Linked DNA regions of Homo sapiens. The protein of the gene in region 1 purifies or fractionates together with the protein of each later gene. This does not show direct contact. Each region holds a gene or a part of one and is shown in the gene's direction. Other genes may lie near its edges. The genes, in order: CTSO, PGLYRP3 and AMZ2.

The links.
Region 2: the proteins of CTSO (region 1) and PGLYRP3 purify together in Homo sapiens (affinity purification with mass spectrometry; one large-scale study listed by BioGRID and IntAct). This does not show direct contact.
Region 3: the proteins of CTSO (region 1) and AMZ2 purify together in Homo sapiens (affinity purification with mass spectrometry, with the first as the bait; one large-scale study listed by BioGRID). This does not show direct contact.

What each region holds. Positions count from the first base shown.
Region 1 is NC_000004.12:155,951,029-155,955,309, reverse strand, and holds the start of CTSO (cathepsin O preproprotein), read left to right. Parts: upstream 1-1,443; 5' UTR 1,444-1,462; coding exon 1,463-1,597; intron 1,598-4,281. UniProt on the Homo sapiens protein: Proteolytic enzyme possibly involved in normal cellular protein degradation and turnover.
Region 2 is NC_000001.11:153,296,490-153,299,803, reverse strand, and holds the end of PGLYRP3 (peptidoglycan recognition protein 3 precursor), read left to right. Parts: intron 1-66; exon of another isoform or gene 67-164; intron 165-572; coding exon 573-691; intron 692-1,669; coding exon 1,670-1,848; 3' UTR 1,849-2,688; downstream 2,689-3,314. UniProt on the Homo sapiens protein: Pattern receptor that binds to murein peptidoglycans (PGN) of Gram-positive bacteria. Has bactericidal activity towards Gram-positive bacteria. May kill Gram-positive bacteria by interfering with peptidoglycan biosynthesis.
Region 3 is NC_000017.11:68,246,597-68,250,947, forward strand, and holds the start of AMZ2 (archaemetzincin-2), read left to right. Parts: upstream 1-1,446; 5' UTR 1,447-2,109; intron 2,110-3,589; exon of another isoform or gene 3,590-3,591; coding exon 3,592-3,874; coding exon of another isoform or gene 3,875-3,884; intron 3,885-4,197; coding exon 4,198-4,351. UniProt on the Homo sapiens protein: Probable zinc metalloprotease.

The sequences.
Region 1 (4,281 bases):
TACTCAATAAATACTTGATGTGAGCTCCTGAAATGAGTTTAGTTCAAGGGGCTTTTTTACAATACCAATTATCCTAAAGTAAAGATGACTGCCTATATTTAAATTTCCTGACTCCGTAGGTTGTCAATAAACAGGGACTATGATCTGAAAGCAAAGTTCAGTTTAAAAAGAAAAGTATGTGCTTGTATGAGTCACAAAAAAGGGCTAAGTACAAAAGAACTGCTGAGGTAAACATGAACATCGTTCTGTGAACTTATGATTTAAATAAAATCTTTATCACCACACTTGCCAAGAGCAATATATCTTATCATGAACGTACATAAAAAACTCTTGTGTCTTTCCTCTTAATACTCGGAACATTATTTTTATTTTTATTACGAAGTTTGCATTGGAGAATATTGTAACTCACTGCACCTAGGTAAAAACTAAAGACATAAATCTGATGTTAGTTCTAAAAATCTACAAGGGTAATGATATGAATTTCACAGACATGGAAGCCTTGTTCAGAATAGATGATAATAGAAAGGCTCGGTAGAGCCAGGTTCATGAGTGTGTGACCTGTGCAGAAGTGGGTGCTTAGAAGGCCCATGGCTTGGGTTAATGCTCTGCTGTTGCCGTCTTGAAATTCTTCACAATTTATGAACAAGGGAACTTCATTTTCAGTTTACACGGAACCCTGCAAATTATGTACTTGGCTCTATCTTCCTTTGCAAACGGAGAAACAGGCTTCAAGAGTTTTGAAACTGCCATAATAGATCCAAAAACTGTGTATGCTTTTCACATCTGTACAATTTTGTTACGTATTTATAAACATCTGCTGAATGGATGACTCTATGTATTGGCCCACATCACTTCAGAACTAGGTCTTGAACTTAGGGATTGTGGCAAGAAGGAAAAAGGCAGCTTCCGGTGGCTCACAGGGCAGGCCAGGTGGCTCACACCTGTGAGCATTTTGGGAGGCCAAGGCGGGTGGATCACTAGAGTCCAGGAGTTCGAGACCGGCCTGGGCAATATGGCAAGATCCTATCTCTACTAAAAATACAAAAATAGCCTGGGGTGGTGGCACGCGCCTGTAGTCCCAGGTACTCCGGAGGCTGAGGCAGGAGGCACTTGAACCTGAAGGTCGAGGCTGCAGTGAGACCTGATCTCAACACACACAAAAGAATGACTCTCAGGCTTCTTTTTTTCTAATGGATGGAAGTGAAACCTCGAAAGCACATGGTCAAGTGCCTGACTCTTCCAAAACAAAAACAAAAACAAAAAAACTAGCCTCAGCAAGGAGGTCCGTAGCCTCCAGCTGACCGGATTTTCAGTCACAGAACACCGGGGACCTAAAAAAGGGTCAATCTCAGCATCGTGCACTCAACCCAGCTCCTTCCGCCCCTCGAGCCCAGGCTGGGAGGAGCCGAGGAACCGAAAGAGAAAACAGGCCGCGCGGGCGGCAGAGGAGCCGGGCGCCGCAATGGACGTGCGGGCGCTGCCGTGGCTGCCGTGGCTGCTGTGGCTGCTGTGCCGGGGCGGCGGCGATGCGGACTCCCGCGCCCCCTTCACCCCGACCTGGCCGCGGAGCCGCGAGCGTGAAGCCGCCGCCTTCCGGGTACCGAGCGCGCGCCTCCCCGGGATCTGTCCCTGCTCCCTCACTTCCTGTCCCGGGTCTGGGCTGCGGAAGAGGGCCCCCGAGAGCTGACCCTGCTCGTGGGCACCCGTGGCTCTGCGATGCGTCTGGGGCCCTGAGCTGCGGGTGCAAAAGCCAGCTTCTCTCTCCCCTCTCCTTGTGCCATGGTGTCACTCCCCCATGCCTTTGCTAACCAAAAGACTTGATTTTCCAGAAGAGATTTGTCGCTATGGATTTTTGGGACGCACCCAAATAAATCCATAGATACGTCCAAAGTGTCCTTGGTGGGAAGAAGCACCCCCTTTTAGCAATCCCCTCTATCGTTGCCACTGGCTTCCAAAGCTCTTCTATTTCTCTTTTATGAGAACCAGAAACAGGGAGCAGCCTGTTGGTGGAAGAAACCTGTCGTGTTTTTTTTTCCCGAGGAGGGCGCTAGTGATCAGAAGTTAGAAACAAAGAGCCTGTCTTTAGCCAGATTAAAGAATCCTGATGGTTTATGATTCTCCTTAAACTAACGCACCACTTTAAAAGTTCTTCCTGCCTTGGCGGAGACTGAGTTGAAGAAAAGAGAAGCATTTAATTTCCTTTTCATATTATTATACGAAATATAATATAATTTATATTTTATAATATTTATAATAAATACTTAGATTTGAGTCTAGCATGAAAACTCTGGAAGGGACCAGTTAGCTGAGCACAAATAATGATTTTCCTGAAACCAAGGAAACTGCAAGGGATGCCGATTTAGTGTTCGCCTCACTATGTTCTAGATAGCTGATACTATTTAACACATTTTTAAATTCATGAAAGATGCCATTATCATGATTTAATTTATTGGAAAAGAAAATTCTTTCATTCTGAATCAAACATAAGTCTGAGTTGAGTAATATTGCTCAAGGAAGTGTATCTTTTTTCCTGGTGTTTGTTGGAATTTCTCACAGGATTTCATAGCTGTGCTCTTTTCCCCCGACTCTCCTGGAAAGCTCCAATGTTTAGGAAGGCCAGCCTTCCCTGATTCTGTCCACTCTTACGTTTTGTCCAAACCGAGATGTGTACTGTTATCTCCACTTTATTATTCTTGAGTTCAGTTCTAGCTTTCAAAACCAGAAGTCCTCTTACTCTTTCAAGAACAAAATTCTGGCCTGTATTCTACCCCTATCCTCAACTTACGTTCGTTTTCCTGGTAAACGAAACCCCTTAGGGGAAAAGTCAGTTTCACCTTTATTGGTAACGTATTCATTGGCTAAATAAATAAACACACTGTCAGGCTCCTAAAAATAATATTTCAGGACAAAGCTCAAAGGGCTAGACTTATAAATATATTTTTAACATTTATTTAGATTTTAGATAATTTATAAATATATATGTGTATAATTTATGTAGTGACTCATACTGGTCCTGTAAAGAGGCCATACCCTGATGAATGTCTAGAAAATGTAACTTTTCTCAGGAGAAATACAAAGAAACAGGTTGAAAGATGGAAAGTTGGAAGTGGAGGAGGATCGAATTATGAAGACTCTTAGTACATTTTAAAAACCTCGGGTTAAGAAATACTGAAAAAATTTTCAAAGCAATTGCTGCCTGTAAGAATTTGCTTCATGAGATGGATACCCAAAAAAGAGAACATTGAGGCTTCAACGCACAGTTGCTGGAAACTGAACACCTCTCGGTGCTTAGTTGGACTTTATCCAAGAATGCTTTAAAACCGATTTTCTACCTTAGTGGTCCCCAATCTTTTGGCACTAGGGACCGGATTCATGGAAGACATTTTTTCCATGGACGGGAGGAGGGAAGTGGGGGAGATGGATGGATTTGGGATGAAAGTCTTTCATCTAAGATCATCAGGAATTAGTTAGATTAGTTAGCTGGAGATTGCTGTTCGGACTTGGGATAGAGAGCTGGACAGTGGGAAAGGTGGAAAGGGCCTTGCCTCCTTGGTAACCGTGAAACTTCTTGTTGAAATCAAGTTAATTCATTGGTGAATTGATGATTCAGGGGTTTGCAGCTGAAGATCTGGTTCAAGAAAGTCCTTGATTAATTAGTAATGTCTTTCATGGTCATGGGTTTAGAGAATGGTGAAGGTTTTAAAATTTGTTTTAATCTTAGCCTTAGATAGTTTTGTAAGTTTCCCAGGAATGCACGTTAAATGAAAGTTAGGTTAGCCCATGACTTTCCCACAAAATATTATAGTATTGTTCAGTGAAAACTAGACTCCACTATGGTTTATTATGGGATGCCTCACAAGACACCTGACTTTGGATGGCACCCCTTATCTCTGCACTTTCACTCCTTTAGAAACTTCCAGTGCTCAGGAAGCTCTTAACTATTGGATTTAGCCTACTCTCCTTTGTGCCAAAACCTAGCTATGCCCTCATATTTACTGATGCTCATTATTTTACCACAGAACATTTGGTATTCTTATCCTTTTGGGAGGCACAGACCCAATATTGGATCCAATAAAATTTGCTTGATACACTCACTTTAGAATAATATCTATGCCAAAGTACATGTGATTTTACATAAAATTTCCAAAGCTTTACCTTAAGACCAGTTGCCGTAATGACACAGGTTATATTATTATAAGATTATTTATATATTTAGGAATATTTATTTATGTGTAAATAGATGGCCATAGCATCTTTATAACAAGTGATCCTAACTAATGA
Region 2 (3,314 bases), on another chromosome or scaffold:
TGTTGTCCAATTTTCTAGCTGGATAAATTTTAGAAGAAGGTGGGTTTGCTTGGACTGTTTTTACAGGTAGTACTTGAAGCTGTGGCAATGATTGTCCAGGGTGAATACGTTGAGTGAGAGAATGGCCTAGACTAGAGTGCGGAGGAGCACCATGTTTGAGGAAGGTAAGGTGGGGTGGGAGAGGGGCCTGAGGGAGCAGCAGGAGGAGGAGAACAAGGAGGGTTGTGGTTGTGGAAGCCCGGGGAAGGGAACATTTTAAGAGAGTGGTCAACAGGGTCAGTGTAGTCTAGAAGTAAAGTAAGTGTCCATTGTACTTAGTGCCAGGAAGCCACTGCTCACCTTGGAGGGGTCAGATTTAGTGGTGTGATGGGAACAAAGGCCAGGTTGAAGTGGACTGTGGTATTTTTTTGTTTTGTTTTGTTTTCTGTCCTTGTCCACATTGGCACATAAGAGATCTCCAGTCAATATTGGATGAATGGATGAAAGAATGAATGAGTGGTTGAAGGAGTGAATGAAGTATTTAAATTCTGTTTCCCAGAGTGACTGTCTTCATTTTCTTTTCCTGACCTAAGCTTCCTGGTGGGCCAGGATGGTGGCGTGTATGAAGGGGTTGGATGGCACATCCAAGGCTCTCACACTTATGGATTCAACGATATTGCCCTAGGAATTGCCTTCATCGGCTACTTTGTAGGTAAGGGGTGAGCATGGGGTAGAGGGGTGCTGGGGGTTGAAGGACCATGCAGCATGTCTGGGAAGCATGGCGGGAAAGGCAGCCCTGTAGTGCCTGGCAGTGTGAATGGAACATTTTAGCTTTAAAGTGGACTCTTAATACAGGATGTCACCAGGATCCCCTTTCAGACAGAGCATTTACCCCCAAATCCACCCATCCCCATGCCCAGCTCCACCTTGCTTTATATCCAAGGCAAACATGGAGCAAGGGGGGAAACGTCTTTTGCAAACTTCAGTGCTTTTATCGCTCAGTTGGCAAATGTGTCCCCTTTCTTGTTAGCCATGGCAACAATTTGGGGAGCACCACTGCCTGTTATGGAAAACCAGTGGGCGGCCCAGTGGTGCTGTATCTGCTTTATACCTGCTCAGAAGTGGTGTGTTGTGCTGCAGTTCTCCTCCAGAACAGTTTTTTATATTTATTTATTTATTTTTGAGATGGAGTCTCGCTCTGTCTCCCAGTCTGGAGTGCAGCGGCGTGATGTCGGCTCACTGCAAGCTCCACTTCCCGGGTTCACGCCATTCTCCTGCCTCAGCCTCTCGAGTAGCTGGGACTACAGGCGCCCGGCTAATTTTTTTGTATTTTTAGTAGAGATGGGGTTTCACCATGTTAGCCAGGGTGATCTCGATCTCTTAATCTCGTGATCCGCCTGCTTGGCCTCCCAAAGTGCTGGGATTACAGGCGTGAGCTACTGCACCTGGCCCCCTCCACAGCAGTTTTTAACCTTCTGGAAGAAACTTTGGCACGGAGGAATCAGAGAAAGCAATGACCTTGTTTTCTTTTTGTGCCTGATTGCCACAATTTACGTAAATGTGTTGGCTATGGTGATGGCGGAATGGGGCGTGGTGGAGGAAGAAAGAAACTGGAATCTAGGTGCTTGTCCCTTCCCTAATCAAGAAACTTTGAGCCCCTAATGACTGATGGGGAAAATGTGTTTTGCAGAAAAGCCTCCAAATGCTGCAGCGCTGGAGGCGGCCCAGGACCTGATCCAGTGTGCCGTGGTTGAGGGGTACCTGACTCCAAACTACCTGCTGATGGGCCACAGTGACGTGGTCAACATCCTGTCCCCTGGGCAGGCTTTGTATAACATCATCAGCACCTGGCCTCATTTCAAGCACTGAAGGAGGCCCCACTCCCTTTGAGACTGCCCTCCCTCCCCTGCTGGGTCTCTCCAACCCTCACCAGCCAAGGTGGCTCAGCACCTTGTGTCCCCCTCCCCTGCCAGCCCATCCTTTCTCAGGTTTGAATGGTCATGTCCTTTCCTGCCAACATCCTCCAGGAGCCCCCAAACCTCACAGCTGGGCATTCACAGCCCTCTTGGTCTGAGTTTAGACTTCCCCTCTCTTTTACCTACCTCTCCCCTGGGCACTTACCTCCTCAGTCAGGCGAGACAATGGGCTGGTCCTTGTGGCATTTCTCTCTCTCTCCCCCCAACCCCTGTCTCCTCTTCTTTCTTTCTTTGCTTCCTTTCTCTTTCTTTCTTTCTTTCTTTCTTCTTTCTTTCTTTCTTTCTTTTTCTTTCTTTCCTTCCTTCCTTCCTTCCTTCCTTCCTTCCTTCCTTCCTTCCTTCCTTCCTTTCACCTTCTTTCTTGCTTTCTCACTCTCTCTCTCTCTCTCTCTCTCTCCCCCTCTCCCCGCCTCTGCCTGGTGAGCCTTCCCTGTTTTCTGCCTGGAAGCCCCCACCCTTCATCCCTCACCCATGACCTAGGTCAGTGTGCCCACCCCCCCTCTCTGCTCACACATGGACTGGTACATATTTGGATGCAGCCCTTACTTAAGGGCTGTAATTATTTATAGATATGATTTATAGATATGTCTGTCCTCTCCTCTGGGTTGTAAGTTTCTCCAAGGGAGGAATTCTATTTTATTCATCTCTATCCTCAGTTCCTCAGCAGTGTTTGGAGTTTAATAGGTTCTACAGATGTTTGTTAAAGAAATGGATGAATAAATGAATGAGTGGACCCAGGTCCCTGTTCACCTTGCCAGTTTGCTTCGGAACTTCCCCTCTGAGGCAGCCTTCCTGGATAGTGTCCCCATCCCACCAGCAGCATTCTCTCTGTTCCTGTTCCCTCCCAGTCCAAGGCTCAGAGCTGGCTCTGGTCGTCTGTCTGTAATGGTGGCTGTATTGTTAGGGTCTCGCGTCCATGTCCCCCAAGAGCACCCTGAAGGCAGGGAGCATGTGCTTCTCTGGGTCAGGCCAGGGCTGTGTCCACACAAGCTGCCCAGTGCCTGCCACTTGCCCTTGCCTGGCTGGGTCCCACTGGGTGTTGGGCTGAGAGAGAGCCCAGAGCCCTGGTGCTCTGTAGCCCTCCCTACCTGGGCTCCTCTTGCCCAGAGGGAAGCTCCTTTTCTTCAGATGGGGGCATGATGACGTACTGCTGTTTACCGGAAGCACGTGAGCTGGCTCTTGTTTTCACGGGTTTTGATCTGGAAACAAGGGAAGGTGTTGACAAAGAGTCAAACTGTGTAAAATATTTGAAGAGATTTATTCTAAGCCAAATATTAGTGACCACGGCCTGTGGCACAGCCCCAGCAGATCCTGAGAACATGTACCCAACGTGGTCAGGCTACAGTTTGGTTTTATATA
Region 3 (4,351 bases), on another chromosome or scaffold:
TTCTCAACTTCAAACTTTGAGAACAGTCATGGTAGGAATGCATTTTATTCAAGAATGGGTTCAGGTGAGGGTGGATATGGGCACTGGGTTCAAAGGACAAATTTGGAGAATTCATGATCCAGGAGAGTGAACAAATAAGGAAGGGCTAAAGAGATCCTCGAAGTTGAAAGGTTCAGAGTTAATGTCCTCTAAGGAGAGCCAACAAGGGGTTACAAATGCTGAAGTCATCAAGAAAATGTGCCTGTCTTTCCTTGAGACTGGGAAGGAGAATTAGGATGACGAAAATCCAGAGGATGGTAAAATAGCTTGACTTCAAAATAACAGGCCGGGCGCCGTGGCTCACGCCTGTAATTCCAGCACTGTGGGAGACCGGGGTGCGGGGGGGTGGATCACCTGAGCGCAGGAGTTCGAGACCAGCCTGGGTAACAGGGTGAAAACCCGTATTAAAAAAAAAAAAGCCGGGCGCGGTGGCCCACGCCTGTAATCCCAGCACTTTGGGAGGCCAAGGCGGGCGGATCACTTGAGGTCAGGAGTTCGAGACCAGCCTGGCCAACATGGTGAAACCCCATCTCTACTAAAAATAACAAAAATTAGCCGGACGTGATAGCGGGCACCTGTAGTTCCAGCTACTGGGGAGGCTGAGGCGGGAAAATCGCTTGAACCCAGGAGGCAAAGGTTGCACTGAGCCCAGACTGTCCCACTGCACTCCAGCCTGGGCAACAGAGCAAGACTCCGTCTCCAAAAAAAAAAAAAAAAAAAAAAAAGCAAGAAAAAGAAAGAGAATGGCGAGGCCCAGAGAGACCGAAAGTCCCACCAGAGGGTACAGAGCTAGCTCAGCCCTAATGCCGGCCCCGCGGTGCCTTTCCGAGCTCACGGCCTCCCCTCAGCATCCGGGTTTCGGCCTCGGAGCGCCAGGGACGCCACGAGGACGCGCCCCACACTTGCGCTTCTGGGTTCCAGCCCCCGCGGCCCCCAACAAATAAAGAAGGGAAAGTGCTGAGGGTGACGGCCCCGGGGAGCGCTGCGGCTCTACGTCAACCTGCGGCGGCCGCCGACTCATTTGGGGCCACGCTGGTTGCATTCGTCACGCCGGCGATGCCTCTCAAACCCGCGGCCTGCCGAGGACGTTCCCACACGGGAGACCCCAGCGACGCGGGCGCATCTGTGGCTCTCGAGAACCGGGCCGCGGAGCCGCCGCGAGCGCAAGCGAGGAATCGGCGACTGCGGGGGTGGACAGCTGGGGCTTGTAGTCCCCTCGCTACCCTCTATTCTGGAAGAGGCGGGTCGCGGCCGCTGAACTCCAGCTCTGCGCCTGCCCAGGCGGCCGCACGCTCAGGGGCGTGGCATGGGTGGGTCGTGAGTTGGGCGGGGCCCACAGGGCGTGCGCGACGCAGCGGCGCGGCGCGTGGCGTAAGGGGCGTGGCGCCAGTGGGCGTGGCGTGGCGCAGTGCGAAGGGACGCGGTGCGCATGCGCGTGAGGGCTGCCGCGGGTGGGTGGTATCGAGGCCTGTCGGGTCAGGGCGGTTCGCGGGTGCTGTCAGAGCTGGGCCGGGGCCCCTAGGCAGGGTAGCCGGGTCGTAGAGGCGGGGGCCGGTCGCGGTCGGTGGAGCGGGATGAGGATGTAGGAGGGGCGGACGTGGCGGAAGCCGCGGGGTCCGCGGGGTCGGTGCCTCTAGGGAGCCAGGGAGGCCTTTCCCGAGGCTCCTGGGGAAGAAGAGGCGAAGCGAGAGTCCCTGGGGAACCCCCACTCCACTCCCAGCTGGAGACTGGGTTGTGTCTGCATGGACCAGAGCCCACAGTGCGAGTTGCTATAGGCAACCAGCCAGGGTGGCCAGCTCCTTCCCGTTTGCCCGTGATGTTCTGGTTTTGGGACCAAAGCATCCTAGGCCTCCAGCCCACTGCAGTGACCGAATTCTGCGCCCCCTGCCCATCTTCTCCCGCAGCTTCCCTAGATTAGGCTTGGGAGGCAAGAGGAGGCCTCCTGACCTTTCACACTGCCTTTTTAATATTAAGATGAAGTCACACTCCACAACTTTCTTCCAGCCAGGCCCAGACATGTCCGTCCTTGTAAGTTAAAAGCTTCCATGGGAGCCTTCCTTCCTAATCAAGGTAGGTAGACTACAGGAAGGTACATCTTGTTTTATATTTTGTCCTGTAGAAGTCAGATTTCAGCCCAGTTGTGTAGGAGTGAGGATGAGCCTATGCTTATATCAGAGCTTTGAGTACAGAGACATTTGGTCTGGAATTTTAGTCAGCCTCTTCAACCCCAGAATTTATAGGTTCAATCAGAACAGACATTAGCTTAAGTTTTCCCATCAATCGTCTATCATTAAACTGGCAAAATCTAAATAATTAGAAAATATGACAAAGATGATCCAGACAGAGATGTTCAACTTTTTCCTTAATTCAAAAAGCCTCGTGGTGGAACATCGGACCCATTCAAGAGGAAGGATGAAAGCTCTATATAGGAACACGATGTGAATGGAAGAAACCTGTCATTGTGAGGCTGGCTTTTGATTAGTCATCTGATGTCTTCCCTAATGTGACATGACTTTGAGGCCATAAACTTCAGTGGCTAAGCTGTAGTTTCTCAGCCTGCAGTTAAATTGCAGAAATGATAGGGCTTACATTAGTTTTGTTTTTATTTGATGTTGAAGATCTTTGAGTCACATTAGAAACGATGAGTATTTTTCATGTGGCACTGATGAGTTAATTCATATTATTATTTTTTGAGACAGAGTCTCTATTGCCCAGGCTGGACTGCAGTGGCACGATCACGGCCCACTGCAGCCTCGACCTCCTGGGCTCAGATGATCCTCCCATCTTAGCCTGCCAAGTAGCTGGGACTACAAGTGCACATCACCACATCCGGCTAATTTTTTTGTAGATATGGGGTTTTGCCATGATGTCGAAGCTGATTTCAGACTCCTAGGCTCAAGTAATCCTTCTGCCTTGGCCTCCCAAAGTGCTGGGATTATAAGCGTGAGCCACTGTGCCAGGCCAATATTATTCCCCAAAAGAAGGAAGTTGGGTGTGAGGTCCTGCTCCTGTGGTCACCGTGAGGTTTTTTTTTTTTGTTTTGGACTCTTGCCCAGGCTGGAGTGCAGTGGCACAGTCATGGCTCACTGCAGCCTCAAGCTCCTGGGCTCAAGTGATTCTCCTGTCTCAGCCTCCCTGGTAGCTAGGACCACAGATGTGCACAACTATGCCCAGGGAATTTTTAAATTTTTTGTAGAGACAGGGTCTCACCATGTTGCCTGAGCTGTTCTCAAACTCCTGGCCTCAAGCAATCCTCCTATCCCAAAGTGCTGAAATTACAGGCATGAGCCACCACACCTGGCCACCACTAGTTTTTGTAATGGGAGCAGGTTCCATATGAGATGGAGGAATGGATTTCATGATTGTCTTTTTAATTTCTTAGATCTCCAAGAAATTGGACATGAGGAAACCACTCTAAGTGTGACCACTCTAAAGCATTAGCAATCAGTCATTTCACTCTAGGGAGAAATCAGAGCTGAAATATAGAGGATAGGTAAAGTCCCCAATGTAGATATGTATTTTTATATTTGATTACTTGCTTTTTTTTGTTAGATGCAAATAATACGGCACTCCGAACAGACACTAAAAACAGCTCTCATCTCAAAGAACCCAGTGCTTGTATCACAGTATGAGAAATTAAATGCTGGGGAACAACGTTTAATGAATGAAGCCTTCCAGCCAGCCAGTGATCTCTTTGGACCCATTACCTTGCATTCTCCATCAGATTGGATCACCTCCCACCCTGAGGCTCCCCAAGACTTTGAACAGTTCTTCAGTGATCCTTACAGAAAGACACCCTCTCCAAACAAACGCAGCATTTATATACAGTCCATTGGTAAATACTGGTAATGTGCTGGTTTTGGTTCAGTTTTGCAGTGGCGCTCTTGTCAGGAATAGTCCAGGCTATGGGTCTGATTCAGATGGGCCGTTTTAGGATCGTTTTTGATATTCATTGCGGCGGTACAAGTTTTGTAGCCAAACTGACTTAAAAGATAACATTTTGTTTCTTTTTGTTTCATAGCAACACCAATGAATGATAAAGGTTATTGAAAATTTAGAGTTGGTTTTGTTTCTAATTTGAATCTTCTTACTCATAGACTGGGTAAACACTGAATAATCATCTTAAAGTCTGTTTTTAAATGTTCTTCCATATTGTAGGCTCTCTAGGAAACACCAGAATTATCAGTGAAGAATATATTAAATGGCTCACGGGCTACTGTAAAGCATATTTCTATGGCTTGAGAGTAAAACTCCTAGAACCAGTTCCTGTTTCTGTAACAAGATGTTCCTTTAGAGTCAATGAGAACACACA